Linked DNA regions of Homo sapiens. The protein of the gene in region 2 interacts with the protein of the main gene of each other region in a pairwise test. Each region holds a gene or a part of one and is shown on either strand. Other genes may lie near its edges.

Region 1 (3,748 bases), on a different chromosome or scaffold from region 2:
AGCTATTCTCCTGCCTCAGCCTCCCAAGTAGATGGGATTATAGGCACCCGCCACCATGCCCAGCTAATTTTTGTATTTTTAGTAGAGATGGGGTTTCACTATGTTGGCCAGGCTGGTCTCGAACTCCTGACCTCAGGTGATCTGCCCGCCTCGGCCTCCCAAATTGCTGGGATTACAGGCGTGAGCCACCGCACCTGGCCGTGCATGTCCCTTAATTGTTTTTTTCATTAAATGCAGTGCTTATAAGCTCCCAGGACAGAAGCATCATTTCCCCATCTTAAAGATAAGGAAACTGAAATGGAAGTTAGGTTACTTGGTCAAGTTACACAGCTAGGAAATGATAAGCCAGCATCTGAACTCATCTGACAGCAACTTCACTTTTCATTCTACTAATGTACACAACTCTACACTGCCCTTCCCCGACTCCTAACCAAACGTGGTATTTTAGATTGGGCAAACAGCTCATTAATGTGAACAGTCATTAATCACTAGGCGCAGACTGACCAGAGCACAAGACTACTGATCTGGGAGGGCATCGCTGAAACGTGGGAAGTACTTAATAAAGGGTTCTTTTTATCTTATTACATCTTATCTATCTCTACGCTTGTGAGCATTAGGTGTTCAAGAAAGATAAGCAGAAAGAAGACATGGGGCGAAGAAGGGTTGGATGGATGGCTTAGGGGTCTGTATTTTATCTTCAATTCTTCATTTTCTTCTTCCACAACTTAATTCCTTTTATTGCCTCTCTTTTTGTCCAACCCCAGTATTTATTCCTCCCCTACTAAAATATCTAATATATATGTTTTATTACCTGGCATGTGAGAAGTCCCACCATCAGAGCCAGAAGACTGTGCATTTTGGAGGCCAGCTGAGAAGCTCTTTTTATATCTGCAGGATTCAGCCTCTCTTCACAAGGTGAGCAATCCGGGAGCAGATTAGAATGTGTCGTTTTTGTATCCTACATGCACGTAATTCAGATTTGTCAAAATAATGATGAAGAACCTGAAATATCTTTTAAGTAAAATGCTGAATAAAATGGCACTCTTAAAAACCTTGGGCGACAGTTCTCAAACTTTTTCATCTTAGGATCCCTTTAGAAATTAAAACTGAGAATATTTTTAAATATTTGTTTACTAATTCTTTTAAAGTAGCAATAACTCCATTATGTAGAAGCATAAATAACAATTTATTTATTTATTTATTTTTGAGCCAGGGTCTCACTGTCACACAGGCTGGAGTGCAGTAGTGTGAACATGGCTCACTGCAGCCTCAAATGCCTAGGCTCACACAATCCTCCCACCTCAGTCTCCCCAGTAGCTGAAACCACAGGTGCATGCCACCACACTCGGCTAATTTTTCAAATTTTTTGTAGAGATGGGGGGTCTCACCATGTTGCCCAGGCTGGTCTTGAACTACTGGGCTCAAGCAATGTTCTTGCCTTAGCCTCCCAAGTGCTGGGATTGCAAGTGTGAACCACTGTGCCAAACCAATAACAATTTTTTAAAAAAACAATTACCACATTTTTTGAAACAAAAAATTTGTGAAAAGAATGGCACTGCTTTGCATTTTTTGCAAATATTTTTAATGCTGGCTTAATTGAAGATAGCTGGATTCTCATATTTGCTTCACACATTCCATCAGCCATGAGAGCAATTACATCATCACACATCATGTAGCTTCTGGAAAACTCCACTGTACACTTGTGAAAAATGAGAGTAAAAAGGGCAATAATGTCTTAATATTACTATAAAAATACTTTTGACTTCACAGATACTCCCAGACCATATTTGGAGTAAACAGAACTAGAGTTCATGAAAAGCAAAACTATAAGCAGAGTAAGTATGAATTCAGTGTTAGAGAAATTGATTAATCAAAATAAAATAAGGAACTTAAAGAAAATTATATACTATGCTAAATTTCTGTACAATTAAACTAATTCATTCAGAGCTTACCAATTTAAAATTCATCATGATTTGCTTAGGAGCTCAAGTTAAGGTGGCTTAGGTCCGTGGTTCTCAAAGTGTGGTCCCAGGAGCAGCAGCATCAACAACTGGGATCTTGCTAGAAATGCACGTTCTCAGGCCCCACCCCAGAATTACTGAATCAGAAACTCTAGGGTAGGGCCAGCAATCTGTGCTTTAACAAGCGTTTTAGGGAATTTTGAAGAATGTTCAAGTTTGAAAACCACTGGCTTAGATAATCCTTTTTTCTTAGATCTTAGATTTTTTTTTTAATTTAGGAAAAGAATATTTTCCTAAGAATCCTTAAAAACAGTAAAATCATTCACTTGTAAAGAATACTTAAAATGATTACAGATTCATAAAAGAGGGTCCACTAAGGACATCTTAAGGTAACATCAGCTCAGTTCAAGTTATTAAAACAAATATAAACATAGCCAGGTGCGGTGGCTCACGCTTGTAATCCCAACACTTTGGGAGGCCGAGGAGGGTGGATCACCTGAGATTGGGAGTTCAAGACCAGGCTGGCCAACATGGTGAAACACTGTCTCTACTAAAAATACAAAAAAATTAGCTGGGCATGGTGGTGTGTGCCTATATAATCCCAGCTACTTGGGAGGCTGAGGCAGGAGAATTGCTTGAACCCGGGAGGCAGAGGTTGCAGTGAGAGGAGATCACACCACTGCACTCCAGCCTGGGCGACAGAGCGAGACTCTGTCTTAATAGATAAATAAATAAAACAAATACAAAAAATAAACTTACACATTTTTCTAGTTCATATTAGCCTTCTTTCTAAGTAATCATTTAATAAGATTTTACTATACATACTTTAAGGCAGGCCTACACAACTGAAATAGATGTGCTCTGTCTTGTGAAAATTATCACTTCCAGAATGTGTTTCCAGGTTCTTCGCTGCCAAAAAAGCCTTTTGAACTACATATAATAAAAGATTACAGCTTCTCCAAACATATTGTTATGGTTCTGATGCTGTTCTTAAATGTATAAAACTAGTATATGATACAGGTTTGTTTTGCCTTGTAAACCAAACATGCAATTATATTATTTTGTTTTGTTGAATAGGATTGAGAGACAACTTAGAAAATCTTTTCTCAAAGGAACCCTGGGGTTGGGCGCAGTGTCTCACACCTGTAATTCCAGCACTTTGGGAGGCTGAGGCAGGTGGATCACTTGAGGTCATGAATTCGAGACCAGCCTGGCCAACACGGTGAAACCCCATCTCTACTAAAAATACAAAATTAGCTGGGCATGGTGGCGCACGCCTGTAATCCCAGTTACTCCGGAGGCTGAGGCAAGATAATCACTTAAACCTGGGAGGCAGAGGTTGCAGTGAGCCAAGATCGTGTCACTGCACTCCAGCCTGGGCGACAGAGCAATACTGTCTCAAAAAAAAAAAAAAAAAGTAACTGCTGGAAGATGCTTTTGATGACTGGCAATGAGTACCCACAAAATTCCCACGTTAATGGCCACCTCTACCAAAAGAACCACAAGAAGGCAGGAATAGCTGTTCTTTGAATATTCATGAACCAAAAGAAACTTCTCCAAACCTGTGGTGTATTTTCCTTTCCATATCTGTTTTTCTTTTTTCTTTTTTTCTTTTTTTGAGACAGAATCTTGCTCTGTCACCCAAGCTGGAGTGCACTGGCACAATCATAGCTCACTGCAGCTTCAAACTCCTGAGCTCAAGTAATTCCCCCATCTCAACCTCCCGAATAGATAGGACTATAGGCGCACACCACCATGCATGACAGATTGGCTGCTTTAAAAAATGT
Region 2 (3,748 bases):
CCACTCAAGCTGCCTATTACTGGTCCAGGAGGCTTGAAAAGCAATGGGCGCCACACTTTATATGGCAAGTCTGCAACTTAGTTTTTGTAATGCTGCAGGTTTCATACTTTGCTGCACTTTGGCAGATCATTTTGCAACCATTTGTCATTCTCTCTTCTCCACTATTTTGGTTATTATCTGCACCAAACACTAGTTCCTTCTCTAATCCCTTCTGTGATGTAGATATTTGTCTTTTTTCTTTCTTGTTCACAGCTAATCCTTCACAAGCTTCAAAGCTCAACATTTAGGATATCTGTGAGATAGAGTGGTTATTACTAAAATAAAACCTAAGTGCCTTAGGGAAGAAATGCTTAAGTATAATTTTTCCCTCCTCCTTCAGGATATAAAGTATTTTGTTAAGATAATATATGACTTAAAATAACCCCTAAATCCTTACTTTGAATTCATACTTGGAAGAAGATGGGTTCTTCTAAAAACAAGACCACAATCACCACATCATTCCCAATTTAATTAGGAAGTAACACTAAAGATATAAAATATACTAGAGTCATTCTCACCAATAAGCACCTCACTCACAGTGAAAAATAAACCTGCCACACTTGTAATGAGCATGAAGTCAAGCTGGATGGCATTTGCCACTATGGCTGGTGGCTAACTAGTCACCTCGTGAGCAGAAGACTTAGGTTCATGAGTTCAAGAGCCACAGAGAAAAACCCCAGAGGACACACAGGAAGAATGTGCAAGTGCAAAGGAGCGTATCAATGTGGATGCCCTTGAATTGGAAAATTGTTTTGCCAGGTTGGTATTCAACCATAAGGATTAAACTAAAAACACTACTTAAGATCTTACCTTCTAAGTCATCAATGCTTTTCTCCAATTTAGTTACTGACCTCTCCGCAAACTCAGCCCGAGTCTCAGCCTGTAATGATTTATTTGAGTTAAAGTTGGGAAGTTTTATGTTTCCTGTAGCTACAAACATAGGGAAAACTAGAGGATGAAAATGAAGCACATCACCTATAAAATGGATCAGAAACTACTTGTCAGTTTCAGTCACCTCTGTGAGAAATGGCAGTTAGCACAGTACATAAACTCCAAGGCGACCTTTGAATATTCCTGACTTGGATCATTGGAACTTTAAAATGAAAAGGCCCTGACCGGTTCCATGAAAACAAACTCATTTAAAATCCAGTTGGCTTCATCCACAACTCTCATATTACCTCCTTCAGCTTGTCGGAAAGGACCTTGATCTCTTCCTCATATCTGTCTTCCTTCTGCGAGTACTGTAATTAGAAAGAGCATTCCAGATGTCAGGCTGCAGCTCAATCTACTCATGGCTTCTCATGCAAAGAACTCGCCAGCTCAGCCAACAGATGTTAAGGATCTCTTAGGAGGTAATGGAACCTCTGATATCAAATGGCACACTGCAATACATTCTCTGCTTTCTTGCCTATTGTTTTACATGGGATAACAACAAGATAACTTATCCACTTGGCACTTGGTTTAAATTAAATTGATGCCTCATATCCCTAACATAAAATAAATTCTCTAGTTAAAAAAAAGAATTTGTTATCTAGTAACTCTCCAAAAATCACCTCACAATATTGCCATTTTACTAAAATGTCTACTGTAAGTGTTGCTTTCTGGCAGGGCCTCTTTTGAGCAGCTCTTAAAAGATGCCTTTCCCCCACACCATCCTCCTGGCCTACCTTCTCAGCCTGAGCCTCCAGTGACTTCAAGTTGTTCGTCACAGTTTTCAATTCTTCTTCAAGCTCGGCACATTTGCTAATGTTTTCGATCAGAGGCAGAAAGGGTGGGAGACAAGCCAAAGGAAGGAGGAGAGAAAAAGGAGAGGGATGGGAAAAAATGAAAACTGAGTCCTAGAGACGAAGGGCTGCCTTAAAGTAGCCAAATCATCAGGTATTAAAATGTTTAGGTTTTCCAGGAACACTGCCCCCCAACCTCGCAACAGCAGAAGGCAGGGTGACCAAATCCAACAACTTTGAAGTGCGATAATTTGGCTCCTTTTTTGGCTGCCCAAAGAGCATTTATGAAGGGAAAACAAAGGAGCATAAAGGACCAAGGGAAAGCACTTAAGGCAAGATATAAATAGCAGAGGGTGAAGTGAAGGTGCAGTCGTTATACCAAACGAACCAGGAGGCATTGGAAGCTGAAAGATGTCTGGGTTGCAGTTAAACCTAAAAACCACACGAGCCATCAGTACCTTATCCTCTGCAGCCATTAATGCTTTCAAGGTCTGATCCATTATTCTTAATTGTTCTTCCAGCTGTCGGACTTGGCTGTTAGTGGACACAGGAAATGCACAAGGCCATTCACAAAATCAGTGTGCAGGTAAGGCATGCAGTGATACACGCATTCATACATAAGACACCCCACACGAGTCCTCCATGTTCCATACTCGTGGCTCATCCACATCAAATGAGCACAAAAGGAGCCCGGAGCTGAAACAGGTAATGTGCAGCTGCCAGAAGGTCATGCTGTTTAGTCACTGCTCTGCAGCACCCCATTCGTGGCCTCCTGGCGCCGGGCCCGCTTACCCTTCTGAGAGCTCAGCCCGCTCCTCTGCACGTTCCAGGTCGCTCTCAATGATGACCAGCTTACGGGCCACCTGCAGCAGGAAGACACAACACACACACCATGGGTCTTGCAAGCTTTGTGTAACAGAAGGGCATGGGGGTAGAGATCAGATCCCATCAGGCCCTAAGGGTTTTGTCTACAAACAATATGATCCTCTTTCTGGTAGACCAGAGAGAAGCAACTCTCTATTAGGAGTGCCAGCAGAGAGGAGATCAGAGGCTTCTGCTTTGACTCAGAATGGTTAGCTGTGATTGGGCAGTCTCAATTGGAAGTCTGACCTAGGTGAACCGGCAGCCAGACCAAAATGTGGAAGGAGGGATAAAATACACATTCACAATCTCAAAAACAGCAGTAGGATGAGACATGTACTAAAAAGGTGGGGGCTGCCAGGAAAACAAAGTAAACCTAAGAACTCCATCAATTTGATGGCTGATCTGTGCATCTACCTCCTTACTGCAGTGGAAGAATACAAGAGACACTAACGTGAGACAAGTTGGTGAGATAACTGACAAAATCAAATTTGTATTTAGTGGAAGAACCAGAGAGAGGAAGGGAGCCTCTGAAGCAGATCAAAACTTGTGAGCATAGTGTAATCTGAAGGTAATAATGGTAATAAAAAGGAGGGGCAATGCTGTTTCAGGATAGCCACGATGTGATCCAATAAGGAAAAAACAGAAACCTTAATAATCAAGTTGCCTCTTATCACAGGAGGCTGTTTTCATGGGGACACGACCAGGAGCAAATTCTGCTGAAAACCTGCGTTGATAATAGTTTTCTACCACCCTTGAGGAGAGAGGCCTCTGTGAATCCACTGAGAAACTGTCTGTGGTCTCTAAGCTGCCCAATCTGGATGTGCCAGGTCACTCTGGGAAGAAATGACTTGCACCATGACAGCATGAGAGCCTCCTTTCACAAGACACAGGGCCCAACTCTCCCTTCCGGCCAAAGATCTTTTGTCCGGGTCTTTGTGGCTGGGGGAGAGGAGTTTTGGTCCTTCTTCGCAGTGCTACTGATTGGCTTCCTGATAAAGCCTGGGATCCCCTAGCAGGATTAAAATTAGAACCGTTTTCTGGACACAAAGGAACTCTGCTTCTCAAAACCACCCATTTCTGCCAACAAAGCAGATGGCCTCACTCGGGAATCAAGACTGTAC
Region 3 (3,748 bases), on a different chromosome or scaffold from region 2:
GTGATCTGTGCCAAGTGCCCTTCCTGGGAGCCCTGACCTCGCACAGTGCTCACCGTCATGGTGCCACAGCGGGGGTGCCAACGCTGGGGCTGGGTCCCAGGTCCCGTCCTGGTTCTGCCTATGACTTGGCTCATGGGTCCTGCTCGGCTCTTTTTTGTGCCTCGGCATGTTCTGAGAGAGGTGTGGGGGTGAGGGCTCCCCGCTGACCCTCCCGTGGGCGGCACGTGGCATCTGACTCTTGCTCTCTTAACAGCGTGAGGTCGACCGCAACCAGGAGCTCCTGACGCGCATCCGGCAGCTTCAGGAGCGGGAGGCCGGGGCGGAGGAGAAGATGCAGGAGCAGCTGGAGCGCAACAGGCAGTGTCAGCAGAACTTGGATGCTGCCAGCAAGAGGCTGCGTGAGAAAGAGGACAGTCTGGCCCAGGCTGGCGAGGTGAGCGGGGCCTCTGCTGCGCAGGGAGCTGTTTTCCCGAGGAGAGGGAGTGCATGCTCTTGTTTGCCACTGCAGTGCCCGCTTGTGTTTTCACTTGTGCTTCCCACACGGGCAGCTGCGTTTTGTACATAGTTGTCATCAGTAGAAGTATTAATTTTCCATTCTGTAGTTTTCAGTTAAAAAGTTGAGACTTTGGGCCGGGCGCGGTGGCTCACGCCTGTAATCCCAGCACTTTGGGAGGCCGAGGTGGGTGTATCATCTGAGGTTGGGAGTTGGAGACCAGCCTGACCAACATGGTGAAACCCCATCTCTACTAAAAATACAAAAATTAGCCATGCGTGGTGGTGCGCACCTGTAGTCCCAGCCTGTGGGACTCGGGAGGCTGAGGCAGGAGAATCGCTTGAACCCAGGAGGTGGAGGTTGCAGTGAGCTCAGATCACACCATTGCACTCCAGCCTGGGCAACACAGCAAGACTCTGTCTCAAAAAAAAAAAAAAAAGTTAAGCACTTTTTTGCCTTTGTAATTATGAATTTAAATGGATGATGAATCTGTTTTTTGTTGTTTGTGGACGTTTAGTGTGTTTGTGTTCGCTCATGTATGTATGCGACAGGTAGCCCTTCCCTCAGCCCTCGCTTCTGTTGACTTTGGACAGACCCCTAGGACTGGGTTATAAGGTCCCTAGCGATGGCGGTCTCTGCAGCCGTTGTGCTCAGAGGCCTGGCTGAGGGCTCCAATTTCCCCGTAGCCTTCCCTGTCGTGGATGGTGGTCTTTTCTGGAAATAGCTGTTGTTTTGTCAGGAGGCTTAAGGAGGCACGTCTGGATTTGCATATCTTTGACTGTCTGCAAGGTCTACAGGCATCTGATGGCGTCGGATAATTGCCTCTGAACTGGAGCCTGTGTGAACTGCAGTCCTGGTGAAGGTTGCTTGCATTTTAGAAACAGCCCAGACATGGGCACTGGTGGAAATTGGAATCTTCTGACCTCTCCTGTCCTTTGTCTGTGGCGATCAAGATCGCTGGTGCCAAGAGGAAACATGAAAATCTGCTGGTGTGGGGGTGGAGGCGTGGTAGGGGTGGGGTGGGCGTGCAGCGGGGGTCCTGGAGGGGTCCAGAAACTGGCCGCGGGTCCTTCCTGTGGCCGTGCTGGGGAGGCGTGTTCAGGCTGTTCCCCTATCTGCTTCTGGAGGGAACGTTGGCAGGAGAGGAGGCGTGATTGGCTCCCGAGAAGCTGCTCTTGCCTTGCCCATGCTCTGGGTTCCAGTTCCCATGTGCTGGGCTGTACTGGAGTTGGGCCGGGGGCTGTCCCCGCTGCCTGCGGGCACCTGTGGTTCCATGGGGGAGGGTGAGTCGTGCCGAGCACTTCATGAGGGGCAGAGGAGCAGGAGACTGCAGGAGCCGCAGGGCGGTGCCCGGTGGGGTGGGGCATAGTGAGGGGAAGATGGTGGCGCTGCAGGTGCTGCTGCTTTGGCCTGTCATGTCTAAGCCGAGGTGGCCGCTCCTCAGGGAAGCCCTCCCTGCGCACTAGGCCTTGACTGCCTTCTCCTGTCACAGGGTCCTGATTGTCACGCTCCTTACTCTGGAATTATCTTATGCGCCTCTTCCTTGCCAACTGTCCGGCGTCCCCTACAACACGGGTGACCCTGTGGGCAGGTGGGCTCGGCCCTGCATCTGGCCTTGCCCCTGGCACACGGTGCGTATTAATTGAGTTCGGAAGACCTCTGGGAGGATGTGTTTATTGTTAGTATGTTTTTAATACCTTTCTTCTTTGTTGACTCCCAGGTTGATGCTTCACTGTTGTGGTGAAGTAAACCGTACATATTGTGGGCATGTGGGGAGCACGCAGCCCCCATGCGGGCCTTCCCAGAGCGGCGTGGGGTGGACAGCGGTGATAGGCTTCAGCAGGCCCTAAGCTGGGCACGTTCTCAGGGACAGGGAAATGAGTGCTGAGGCCTCCTTGTTTGCGGAGGGTGCCGCCCAGCCAGGCCCACCCAGGTCGTTTGCTGTGTGAGTTTGCCATTGTCCTGTCCTGGGTGCGTGGTCCCCAGGGCTGACATCACGCCCGTGTGTTTCCGTGTGTTAACTTACAGTGATGCTTCTCAGGGTCTGTCCGGCTTTTCACATTGGCTCGACCCACGTGCTCTTTCTTTCTCTGAGGACACCTGGGGTTTTCTGAGCTTTTCCAGAGGGTTAGGGTCCTCAGAAGGTCGCCTGGTGGGAGTGGTCAGGAGGAAGCCTGGCGGTTCTGTCGCGTGCGGGTTCCATGATGTCAGGCAGACCTGCTGTCCTGGAGGCTGCCAGAGGGGCTGCTGGCTTTGCTCAGGGGCCGCCTCCCCAGGGGCGCTCCTGCCCGTGCCGCGTGCTCCCGTTCCAAGCGCACGGCCTCCCCAGCAGGTACCGCCCTGCCCCTTGCACAGCCTCCGTCTTTGTCCTGTTGGTTGGCCAGTGCCTTGCTGTGGTGTGAGGGCGATGTCGCTAGCAAACAGCCGTCATGGTAGCATTGGGGTGGCTAGGGAGGGATGACAGGAGCCACGGTTGGAGGGAAGACCGAAGTGATGGTGTGGCGGGTATGTGGATGTCTGATGGGACTTTGGGAGCGTGGGGCACTGGCACAGAGACTGCCAGGTGCCAGGCCTGAGAGTCCGGGCCCATCTTGGCTGGTGGAGGCTTTTGCTTCTGAAGCCGCCTCACCAAGCCTCCTTTCCAGGGCCCCTGGCTGGGGCCCGGTCTCCTCTGTCAGCTCCTGGGTGGCTTGTGGCAGGCTCTGGGCTGTGCTGCTCTGGAGCACCAGGAGGAGGGTGGGCCCTGCGTGTGAGCGTCTGCCTGACCTGCATCCTCCAGAAGGAGGTGGCTCTGCCCCCTGGCCCTCTGCTCCCCTGCTCCTCTTCCCCCTGCCCTCTGCCCCCCTTGCCCCCTTGCCATCTGCCCCCCTACCGCTCTGCCCCCCTACCCCTCTGCCCGATGCCCCTCTGCCCCCTTATTCCTCTGCCCCTCTGCCTCCTGCCCTGATTATAGCACGTGGGTGGTGTCGCCTCTCCACTCTTCTCATCTCCATGTGCAGGCTCCTTCCACGCACGGGCTCCACTCACTGAGCGGCTCTCTGGTCCCCTCTACTTTTAGACCATCAACGCACTGAAGGGGAGGATCTCGGAACTGCAGTGGAGCGTGATGGACCAGGAGATGCGGGTGAAGCGCCTGGAGTCGGAGAAGCAGGAGCTGCAGGAGCAGCTGGACCTGCAACACAAGTGGGCGGGGCCAGGGTGTGGGGTCGGGGGTCGGGTCACGTGTGGGGGCATGCGTCCCACCTCTCTCCTGGT

Evidence for each region.
Region 1: the proteins of TPM1 (region 2) and CAGE1 interact in binary tests that used the Homo sapiens proteins (3 or more experiments, as listed by UniProt).
Region 3: the proteins of TPM1 (region 2) and MAD1L1 interact in binary tests that used the Homo sapiens proteins (3 or more experiments, as listed by UniProt).

The regions. Positions count from the first base shown.
Region 1 is NC_000006.12:7,369,108-7,372,855, forward strand, and holds part of CAGE1 (cancer-associated gene 1 protein), read right to left. Parts: intron 959-3,748; coding exon 812-958; intron 1-811.
Region 2 is NC_000015.10:63,059,747-63,063,494, reverse strand, and holds part of TPM1 (tropomyosin alpha-1 chain), read right to left. Parts: intron 2,627-3,748; coding exon 2,556-2,626; intron 2,298-2,555; coding exon of another isoform or gene 2,222-2,297; intron 1,783-2,221; coding exon 1,707-1,782; intron 1,281-1,706; coding exon 1,218-1,280; intron 920-1,217; coding exon 850-919; coding exon of another isoform or gene 686-849; exon of another isoform or gene 1-685. UniProt on the Homo sapiens protein: Binds to actin filaments in muscle and non-muscle cells. Plays a central role, in association with the troponin complex, in the calcium dependent regulation of vertebrate striated muscle contraction.
Region 3 is NC_000007.14:2,219,260-2,223,007, reverse strand, and holds part of MAD1L1 (mitotic spindle assembly checkpoint protein MAD1), read left to right. Parts: intron 1-253; coding exon 254-433; intron 434-1,985; coding exon of another isoform or gene 1,986-2,124; intron 2,125-3,551; coding exon 3,552-3,676; intron 3,677-3,748. UniProt on the Homo sapiens protein: Component of the spindle-assembly checkpoint that prevents the onset of anaphase until all chromosomes are properly aligned at the metaphase plate.